Regions from separate parts of the Homo sapiens genome. Here region 1 is linked to region 2. Evidence: fine-mapped expression QTL. Tissue or cell type: left ventricle. Region 2 holds a variant in brackets; the other region holds the start of a gene. All regions are shown on one strand. Distances are from middle to middle. Region 1 holds the start of ERAP1 (endoplasmic reticulum aminopeptidase 1). Region 2 holds the start of LOC124901031 (a long non-coding RNA gene).

Region 1 (5,496 bases), 27 kb before region 2:
CATCTGTACCGTCTTCCCTGTTTCTGATTATTAATAAGATGGTATTGCTTTTGTTAAGCAAGCCTGCTCTGCAACTTGGCACAGAGGGGGAAAAAAGTCATCCTCTTTATCAAGAATATCAAGAATGAGGGGCATTATTATTTTTTTTTAAATTGGCATTTAAAAAAATTAAGTTCTAAGGCCCTGGGAGCCTATGGAAGAGTCTCAAGGACCACAATGTGTGTGGAAGGGCCGGATAGCAGTGGGCAAGGCTGACTGGGTGGAGCTGCCCTGTTTAATAAGAGCAGGCCTGCTTTTGTCTGTTTTCTACACCATGATTCTGGATGAGATTTTACATCAAAAAGGAGAGTGGTAATATGATTAAAATAGGAGCAGCTTTGGCAGCAAAACAGAAGAAATGAGCCAAACGCTGACATTAATTGACTAAAAGCTAATGAAAGCAGAACTGAATCAATCAATTACAGCAAAATTGAACATCACTTGACAATATCTAGAATTCAATATTTTTTAAGTAGATCAGTAATAGCTCAAAGTGGTATGTATTTCATTGGCCTAGGCCTGAAATTCTCCTCATTCCTCTGGCTCACCTCTGGGACTAAGGACACTGAGAAGCCTCTGCAATGGATGGGCTCAACCGGCCAACCAGCCCTCCTACACTATATGGTATACAATATTAGTGTTTACCAACCCCTCCTTGTTCTGGCCAATGCAATGTGAGTAGAATTAGTGTGTGTTTTCTCTTTGACTCTGAGCAAGTTGCCGACCTGTCTCATTTTTCTCATCTATAAAGCATAATATCTACATTACAGGGTTGCTGAAGAGATCAAATTATAAACACACACATGCACACATAGCTAGCATTTAACAGTATCTAACAGTTGGTAGGGAATCAATAAACCTAGGTACCCTTTCTCTCTGTTCCCTTCCTTCTAACCATTTCTAAGCTCGGTAATGTGCTGTTTTGATCTCACAGGCTCTAGAACTAGGACTCCTTAAAGTCCTTACTCCAAGGTCTGTGTCCTCTACATCCCTGCTAGGGCTTTGAAACTAGAAGTGAATGCTGCCAAATCCTCTGACTTATCGCTCTTTGTAGTGCACTTCAACTCTAAAGACGAAATCACGGCCAGGGCGACAGGCTAAAGTCTGAGTCAGGGTGAGCTTTTGGGGAAACGGCGTGGAGCGGGTGGTGGTGTCAGCTCTCTCCTCGCCTACACTTCAGCTCCTTTCTGCCCACATCCATTCAGGGCATTGCCCTGTTTGTCTCCTCAGCTGTCTTCTGTATTAACCTCCAGCCTGTTGGGTGCATTCAGTTCTGCCAGCTGGACTTTCAATATGTATTTAAAAAGACACATAAACAAAAAACAAAAACAAAAACAAAAAAACTTTACTAGAAGCCAAAGGAAAACCATCATATTCAAAAATATAAATATAAAAGCAAAGAAATGCATACATTTACTGGACAAAGAGGTCTCATCTTGAGTAAACTGGGAGCACTCCGAGATGTCTGGAGGTCTTGGAGGCTACACGCTATCCATTGATACCTCCTGTCAAATTCTGAACATGCAGAAATTACCAGATCTCAAAGTCCTCATTTCTTGTTGAATTTTAGTGAAAAAAACTTCCCTGGATCCCACCGTAGTTGAGTCTTGGAACAGGGTGTTAATCTTTATATTATAAAATGTCCTTGACTAGAGATAATAGGCAGTATGAAACATTATATTTTTAAAAAGGAAACATAATATTGAAAAAAAAAGAGAAATACTGTTGCAGTGACTTGGAATCCCCAGTTCTCAAAGGGAAGAAGGCCAATAAAGAAGTGGGAGAAGAAAGTCTGAGAACCGCATGAAAAGGGTCCTGTTCCCACTAGGACCATGGTCCACTCACCAAATTATCAGAGACGTTTGAACCAGAGCAACTCCATCTTGAATAGGAGCTGGGTAAAATAAGGCTGAGACCTACTGGGCTACACTCCCAGGAGGTTAGACATTCTAAGTCACAGAATGAGATAGAAGGTAGGCACAAGACACAGGTCATAAAGACCTTGCTGATAAAACAGGTTGCAGTAAGGAAGCTGGCCAAAACCCACCAAAACCAGGATGGCAATGAGAGTGTCCTCTGGTCGTCACTGCTACGGTCTCACCAGCTCCATGACAGTTTACAAATGCCACTGCAACGTCGGGAAGCTACCCTATATGGTCTAAAAAGGGGAGGCATGAATAATTTCCCCCGCTTAGCATATAATCAAGAAATAACCCTAAAAATGGACAACCAACAGCCCTTGGGGGTGCTCTGCCTATGAGTAGCCATTCTTTTATTCCTTTAGTTTCTTAATTACTTGCTTTCACTTTACTCCATGGACTCCCCTCAAATTCTTTCTTGCGCAAAATCCAAGAACCCTCTCTTGGGGTCTGGATCGGGACCCATTTTCGGTAATAAACTTGTAGCATTTGGTGTTTTAATGTTTGTGTTTTCTTGACTTGTTACCTCATTTAGCCTCAACTGTTTAAAGATGGTCTTTTTGGCCATTTTATTCAGCTTTAATTGTTCTAAGGGGAGTGAAGAAATGGTCATTTACTTTGAAAAATCAGAGGGAACGTGTTGATGCGGGAAGCAGCTAATCCTTGGGGTACAGTGGCCCTTGGTAGTGCAGGAAAGTCCTGGGGGCCACCTCTAACCCACCTTCCTCCTCTACAGCATCTCCCACTGTAGTCATTCTCTACCGAAGCCCCAGAAGGTGCGGCACTTTGCCACGACAGAGTACTGGGTTCATGTTTCTTTCCGAGGCGGGCCAAGAGCTCTCAGCCCACTGGCAGTGGCGAGATGACGGACACCCAGCGAGTCCAATGGGCGTCGAACGCGTCTAGGCTTGGTGGACTTGTCAGCGCCTGCCTGGCTTCGGTCCCCAACTTGAGCACCGGCCCTTTCCTGCATGCCCCTAACCCTCGCAACGCTAAACAGTGAAAAAAAAAAAAAGACAAAAACAAAAAGCATCTCAACACACACACACACACACACACACACACACACACACACACACACACACACACACACACACACACACACACACACGGATCCGCGTTCAGAAAGGCGTGCACTTCCTACGCCTGATCCCCCGCATCGCAACCTCGCAGCTTCCCCGGCGTGCAGCGCTCATTTACCAATTCCCTTCCTGGGAGTTGCGGCTTCCCTCGCTCGGCCCCACTCCCGTTTACCCTTTCCCCAGCTCCCGCCTTAGCCAGGGGCTTCCCCGCCTGCCGCTAGGGCTCGGGCCGAAGCGCCGCTCAGCGCCAGCCTGCCGCTCCCCGGGCTCCACTTTCACTTTCGGTCCTGGGGGAGCTAGGCCGGCGGCAGTGGTGGTGGCGGCGGCGCAAGGGTGAGGGCGGCCCCAGAACCCCAGGTACAGCGCGCTCGAGCCGCGGGTAGGGGACTGCGGGCCGGGAGGAGAGCGCGGCACCCGCCCCTTCCCTGCGCCCGTCAAGTGGGGGGCTGAGGGCCTGGGGCACGGGAGGAGGGAGACGGGGCACGGGAGGAGGGAGACGGGGCGCGGGAGGAAGGCGACGGGGCGCGGGAGGAAGGCGACGGGGCGCGAGACAGGGCGCGGGAAGGGCGGGGGGAGTCGCTGGCTAGGCCCGAGTCCGCGGGGTGCCCGGCGGGTTGGCGGCGGGCCCACCCCTGCCGGTCCCTGTCCCTGTCCCTCCGGGCGCGTGGCCGGTGCGCCTGCTTCACGGGTCTCCCCGCTGTTCGGCCGGCGGGAGCCTCCCTCAGCGCTCCGCCTGGCGCCTGGATGCCTGCCAGTCCTGCAGGCCACCGACGCCCGCGCGAGGCCAAAAGGCGGGGTGGGGCGGGCAGCTGGCTCGGGCTGAGGAGGGCACCTGCCCATAGCTGCTAGAGAAACCCAGAGGCTTTGGGTTAAAGACTCTGGTGGGGTGGGATGCGCGGGCCGTGTGTGTTCTTAAGGTCACTTCCCTCCCTGCTTCTCCTGTTCTTCTGGTCAGCAATTCTCTCTCTCCCCTTCGCTCTGGCTCTGGCTGGGTTTTATTCAGATAAAGCACCTCTGTTGACGCAAATTAAAAGTTTCCTATCTGGGTGCCTCACTGGCCAGGTGGTCCTACAAAGTTAATTCCATGAGGGGAAGGGGGAGAGCACACACTTCCTCACGCTTTTGGATTTCTTTGTGTAGGCTAGGTTCAGAAAGAAATTATCTGTTTCCTATTAAACACCCAGAGGATTCGCTCTGAACTCAGGACGTGGTCAACAATTAACAAAACAACAAAACAAAACAAAACAAAACAAAAAACTTGAAAATTGGGCACAGTTGTCTCTTGCCTGAGGATTTTTAATTAGTATAAGTAGCACATTTTCAGGTGCGGCCTGAATAGAAACATTCTAGTACTTTTTTTTTTTTCAAATTAATCCAGCATTTTTATTATTTACCAACAGTGCTTGTTAATTTCATTGTTCAGGAAATTCTGGAAGAACCTCAATTACTTCTTGATGATCTATTTCATATACTATAGTGCCCCAATAAAAGGAAGGGAGGCAGAGGTTGCAGTGAGCCAAGATCGCACCACTGCACTCCAGCCTGGGAGACAGAGCGAGACTCCGTCTCAAAAAAAAAAAAAAAAAAAAAAAAGAGGGATCTTGGTGAAGCTGAAAAAGCAGGGAGTTTATACTCACACAGATGTGGATTGCATTCCAACAAGTTGTGTGAACTTAGCAAAGTTACATGAATGGTTCTTTGCTTCAGTTACCCCACCTTGAATGAGAATAATAGGCTATTAGAGAGAGTGAGCATGTGTAAAGTGCCTGGCACTTTGGAGGAGCTTAGTAAATATTAGTTCTTTTTCCTCCTTGGCTTCTATTCCTTTAAGTGTTAGTGGAGTGTAACTTCAAAGAGAATTGTACTTCTCTTGGGAAGAGCTGCTTATATTGAGTAGACTACTGTTTTTGAGAGCTTTCTTTTTTTTTAACTGCCTCCCTTTCAGAAAATTGTTAGTAAAACCAGACCCTAGGAGACCAGCCAGAACCATGAAATGCCATGTTTCAAACTGGAACACTTACTATTGGAAGCAAAGCCAAACAAGAGCTAATTTTTCAGGGGAAGAGCCAAACACACGAACATGATCACAGAATCTTGGATGTAGCCTACAGTTTGGGATTAATAAGAGAATTTATTAGTGAAGCCCTTTATTCACTACATGGAGTTTTTACCAAGCCCCACTCATGCACTGCATCCTCGTTGAGACATAACTGTTTCTCTTTGGACCCCTCATGGACCCAACCCTGCAAAGCCTCTGATCCAAGGTCCCGGTACCAACCCCTTCCGCAGCACATCAGCCTTTCTGTCAGCTCATAACGAGTTGGAATTTCTAGATCTTCTCTGGGGCTGTTGGAGAGGTCTCGGGGACTTTCAGAGTCCTTACATGCTTGAACCTGCCACCTTCACAGAGTCCTCTGGATCCCGTCTTGGGGCAGGGGCGATGCTCATTAAGCTGT
Region 2 (5,261 bases):
CAAAAAGTTGACTTCCCGGATTTACTTTTAAACCACTAACCACAGTGTCTCTTGGTCAGCATTGGGAAGCTGTCCATTGAAAAGGCCTTGGATTTATCCCTGTACTTGAAACATGAAACTGAAATTATGCCCGTGTTTCAAGGTTTGAATGAGCTGATTCCTATGTATAAGTTAATGGAGAAAAGAGATATGAATGAAGTGGAAACTCAATTCAAGGTAAAAGCCTGAAATAAAAGTTATGTAATTATTATTTGTGTTAAAAAGTGTTAATCATTGTGTGTGTATGTGTGTGTGTGTGTGTGTGTGTGTGTGTGTGTGTGTATCTTTATATACATATTAAGGAAAAGCAAATAAATATTAGTTCAGTATTTAGATGGACTAGCAAGATTTTGGTTTTATTTGGCACTAAAAATAGGAATGGCATTCTTAGACTCTATTTAATTTGCATGGATTTGTTATTTCCTTCCTTTCACAAACCTTTTATTTCATTTTCCTTTCCTATTACAATGGCTGACGTTCAGATTTTCTGGGACTCTTCATGGTACTTGAGGAAGAGGCACAAAATTGTTATGCTTGGCAAAATGTCCTGAAGTCTTGTTGCATAATTTGCTCTCAAAATTTAGTCATGTAAACTCTCTTTGAGTTTGTTTTAAAAGTCGCAATTCATCCTGACTTTAAGTAGATGGATATCTTATAAAAGTTTGTTATGAAAATATGAAAGTCATTCATCATTATTTATTGTTTTTGGCCCTTTTATAATTAAACAGTGCTGCATGATTTATACAGTAAAAGTTAGATTATGCTTTAAAAATTAGCCCCCATCATCTGAGACCATAATGGATTATATTAACATGAAATGACCTGTGACAATACTGGTCCCTGTTTCCCTGTACAACGCCCTCAGGCCTTCCTCATCAGGCTGCTAAGGGACCTCATTGATAAGCAGACATGGACAGACGAGGGCTCAGTCTCAGAGCGAATGCTGCGGAGTCAACTACTACTCCTCGCCTGTGTGCACAACTATCAGCCGTGCGTACAGAGGGCAGAAGGCTATTTCAGAAAGTGGAAGGAATCCAATGGAAACTTGAGGTCAGTCCTTACTAAATAACCAATTTGTTGATGTGAAGGGCATCTTTTCTGTTTTCCATCATTGGTACTAAACATTAGGGAAAACAAAAAGTTTAAGTGTCTCCCCTGCTGCCCTTTTCTGGAAAATAAATTGCTTTTTAAGATTTATCTATGTATCTCGTAACTTTAAGAAATGCTAGGAGGGAACTTCTATGCATAAAAGTCAAATATCTGGGGAGTTAGGATGGTATGGGAATAATTCTCATTTTGTATAGGCAATGCAAAATCTTATTAAACGGTGACAGCCATGCCATAGAGAAACACATGCATTGTATTTTATAGTAGTTTCTTTGGGCTTCCAAATTCCCTGACAGGGATGCATAGTAATTGCTGACACTGTCTAAGCAAGGTAGGATTTTACCGTATCTGGAAATCCCTATTCTTGCTACACTTCAGTCCTTTTTACATTTGGAGCTTAAACCCCACCCAGGAAACATTTATGCCAACAACCTACATGCTTCAGCTTAAAGAAATCCAAACAGTGGTCCTACTGCCGTCCTGACTTGTGATCATGGTGTAAATTTTGAATATAGTTTGAATTTCTTTTGGCTTGAAAGGTGATCCCCTATGGAGTCACCCAGCATCATTAAAGTATTTAAATATGTAGGTATTTATAAAAATGGCATTTCACATTTTTGAGAAGGCTACTTAAAACCTAATTTTAGATATTTTTCTCTTGCCTTTTTTTTATAAAGTGTAACTAGGCCAGGCGCGGTGGCTCACGCCTGTAATCCCAGCACTTTGGGAGGCTGAGGTGGGTGGATCACGAGGTCAGGGGATCAAGACCATCCTGGCTAAGACGGTGAAACCCCGTCTCTACTAAAATACAAAAAATGAGCCGGGCATGGTGGCGGGCGCCTGTAGTCCCAGCTACTCGGGAGGCTGAGGTAGGAGAATGGCGTGAACCCGGGAGGGCGGAGCTTGCAGGAACCGATATCGAGCCACGGCACTCCAGCCTGGGTGACAGAGCAAGACTCCGTCCTAAAAAAAAAAAAAAAAAAAATTGTAACTGAAGGAAATCAGTAGTTTTTGTTTATATTTCCAGGCATGCTTCTCTGATCATGGGGAAAGTTCAGCAGTTCATAGTTAGTCACCATTATGCCTCTAAACATACTTACTGCACCTCAGATTCTCACCGAGTGTGTTCCTTTCTATAGCCTGCCTGTCGACGTGACCTTGGCAGTGTTTGCTGTGGGGGCCCAGAGCACAGAAGGCTGGGATTTTCTTTATAGTAAATATCAGTTTTCTTTGTCCAGTACTGAGAAAAGCCAAATTGAATTTGCCCTCTGCAGAACCCAAAATAAGGAAAAGCTTCAATGGTGAGTCCGTCATTCATTCATGTTCATGTGGCCAAGGGAAATTAGATTAGATTAGATCATTCTGGCATCTATTTTTGTTTTCTTGGCCAGGAATTGCCTATCCTGCTGGGAACATACTGCAAGTCAGCACACATCTAATGAGAAAGGCAAATAATTAGGGAGAACCAGGTGTTAGGAAAAATATTTAAAGGTGTATACATTTGTGCATCTTTAAAATGACAACATATTAAAAATATTTACTAGAGCTACTCTTCCTTAACTATTCTTTTGAGCAAATGAGAGGGTATATGAGAATGGGTGTTATGAACACTATATAAATGTTAGTTTTTATTATGTAGCTATAGTGGGTTTATCAGGATTGTGGTTACCCATTTATCTTTTTAACCTTTGTTACTGGCAGACTTTTTTTTCTTTTACAAGTAATTTTATTGCAGTGATTCATAACTGTTTCATCAC[C/T]TATTCATTGCTAACATTTCTTTTCTTAATCCTTCTAGGCTACTAGATGAAAGCTTTAAGGGAGATAAAATAAAAACTCAGGAGTTTCCACAAATTCTTACACTCATTGGCAGGAACCCAGTAGGATACCCACTGGCCTGGCAATTTCTGAGGAAAAACTGGAACAAACTTGTACAAAAGTAAGTGGTGCCAAAAATTGTGCTGTGACTGGATAAGTTCATAACCTTACTGTGTTTTAGCCTTGCTGTTTGTAAAAGAACAGTAACAGTCTAAAGGTACTTTTTGATTGAAGATAGGCAGTAGAAATACCTAAAATATTTGTAGAAAACATAAAACTGGACTTCAGTGCTAACTAGTGAATCTGGACAGGGATGTTTTCCATTCCATCTGGCATAACCCCTTCCTGAGCCCATGGACATATCTGAAGCCTTCCTCCTCACAGTTCAGCCCAGGCCTTCCATGAACACATTTGCTTGTTCACATCTGTCTTTGTCTAACTCTTATAGCATTTCCTGCTTCTGTCATTTTCTGTTGGATACTTAACCTTTTATTAGGCTGTTGGTGTGTATTATTCTTTACAGCTAGATCTTAACCCATTGGATAGACATCATATTTTGTATTTTTCACACCGATCAGTTTTTAGCTGAAAGCTATTATATATAGGAGGCCCTTAAAATATATGTTAAATGAATAAGTATTTCACAACCCGTTTTTGAATATTTCCCTCTCTAGGTTTGAACTTGGCTCATCTTCCATAGCCCACATGGTAATGGGTACAACAAATCAATTCTCCACAAGAACACGGCTTGAAGAGGTAAAAAAAAAAAATCTATATATATATTTTTAAACATAAATGAAAATTAGCTAATTAATATGGGGTAGACAAAATACTTTGAGGGTGTGGTGAGTTAGAAATGGATTGTCATTTAGAAGTTATTTTTGGATGCTATGGTGTTGACAGCAGCATAAATCAGTTGCAATTAAACTAGTGAAAACTGTGCCTCTTCTCAGACACGTTAAGAGGTCTTAGCTCTGCCAGTAAAAACCTTAGGACTTGAAGAAAATTACTTGAGACAATTAGTCCTTGTTTAAGGATGTTAAAAGTGGGCACTGAGGTATAAATGACTGAAGTGGTCATCCAGCTGTTGCTAAAGAGGCAGGTCCGGAATCTAGGTTCTTTATAAACCATCCAAGTTCATGGTTCCCTGTCACTTATTATGTAACCATCTACCTTCAGAAAGAATTTCAGGCAGCTTTAAGATCCATGTATAAAAGAAATGTTAAAATGAAGGACAAAAAGATACATAATGGACAGGTGATAACCATGTGAGGGACTTATGGCTGAGGATAATTCTCGCAATTGTCCCCTGAATTTATCACAGACATTCCTGGAAGTCAAGGAAAAATGAGGAATCAGTATGAGTTATTCTCATTGTCTGGTAAAAGAGAACATGAAGCATACACATTTTCTACAAAAGCAGACTTTTCTTCAGTCCTAAACTCGAGGACTTTGATGTGTGGGCCATTGAGTTCTGTGGTGTCCCTTCTATAATAAGGTTTCCTATAGTAAAGTTGTGGAACAAATTTTACAAGGCTCTTAAACTGTGGTACATTTAGATAAAAGCTGAGAGGCTAATATTAATTTTTTTAGGAGTGGTTCCATTGTGTAGTCTGGTTACACTATTTTCTAGCTTGAGATGGGGAGAGAGCTTTGGAAATGAAAAAGAATGAAGGGTTGTTACAGTCTCGTAGCTTTTTTCCAGTTTTCAGTAGCCTCATCCAGGCTTGTAAAATTAACTTGCATATAATAATTCAAGCTTGAACTCCAGCGAGGTCTAGAGCAGAGATACTCTGTCTGATGACTGAAGAGATGTCCAAAGCCTTGACCAGAAAGGTAGTCATCTATAGACAAGATCTATAGCAACAAAGCATTTCATTCATTCACTTGTATTCTCATTAATTCATTCAAGACATATATGCCACACATGGTTTTAGGTTATGGGGCTGTAACAGTGAACAGACAGACAAAACCTTTGCTGTCACGGAGCTGAAATTTCTGCTGTGGGAATCAGACAATTACAGACAAATCAACCAATGTCAAGTAGTTACATGCTCTGAAGATGAATAAGGCAAGGAGAGTGATTGGGATAGAGGGTTGGTGCTGTTTTATAGGATGATTAGGAGACATTTGAGAAGATATCGAAGGAAATGCCAACATCTAGAGGAGTATTGTGTGCAGAGGAAATATCAGGTGCGAAGATCCTGAAGCAGGGCATGAAAAGTAAAGAGCCCGAGATGTTATCATAATGGAGAGCAAACTACGGACATATAAAATACGGGAGTCATCCTGAATCCTTT

The links.
Region 1: it holds the start of ERAP1, and the variant in region 2 is fine-mapped to the expression of ERAP1 in left ventricle (GTEx, PIP above 0.99). The same link has a PIP of 0.9 or more in spinal cord, subcutaneous fat and visceral fat.

What each region holds. Positions count from the first base shown.
Region 1 is chr5:96,805,761-96,811,256 of GRCh38, reverse strand. ERAP1 (endoplasmic reticulum aminopeptidase 1) reads left to right here and starts at 3,312. Exons shown (of 19, transcript NM_001040458.3): 1 at 3,312-3,397. It overlaps LOC124901033 (a long non-coding RNA gene), which reads right to left and starts at 3,799. Exons shown (of 3, transcript XR_007058879.1): 1 at 2,680-3,799. RefSeq lists enhancers at 2,632-2,701, 2,858-3,357, 3,358-3,859 and a silencer at 3,432-3,891.
Region 2 is chr5:96,778,879-96,784,139 of GRCh38, reverse strand. ERAP1 (endoplasmic reticulum aminopeptidase 1) reads left to right here. Exons shown (of 19, transcript NM_001040458.3): 14 at 60-216; 15 at 905-1,089; 16 at 2,286-2,447; 17 at 2,942-3,082; 18 at 3,636-3,717. It overlaps LOC124901031 (a long non-coding RNA gene), which reads right to left and starts at 60. Exons shown (of 2, transcript XR_007058877.1): 1 at 1-60. RefSeq lists an enhancer at 2,569-3,768. The variant C/T (reference allele first, on the strand shown) is at 2,904.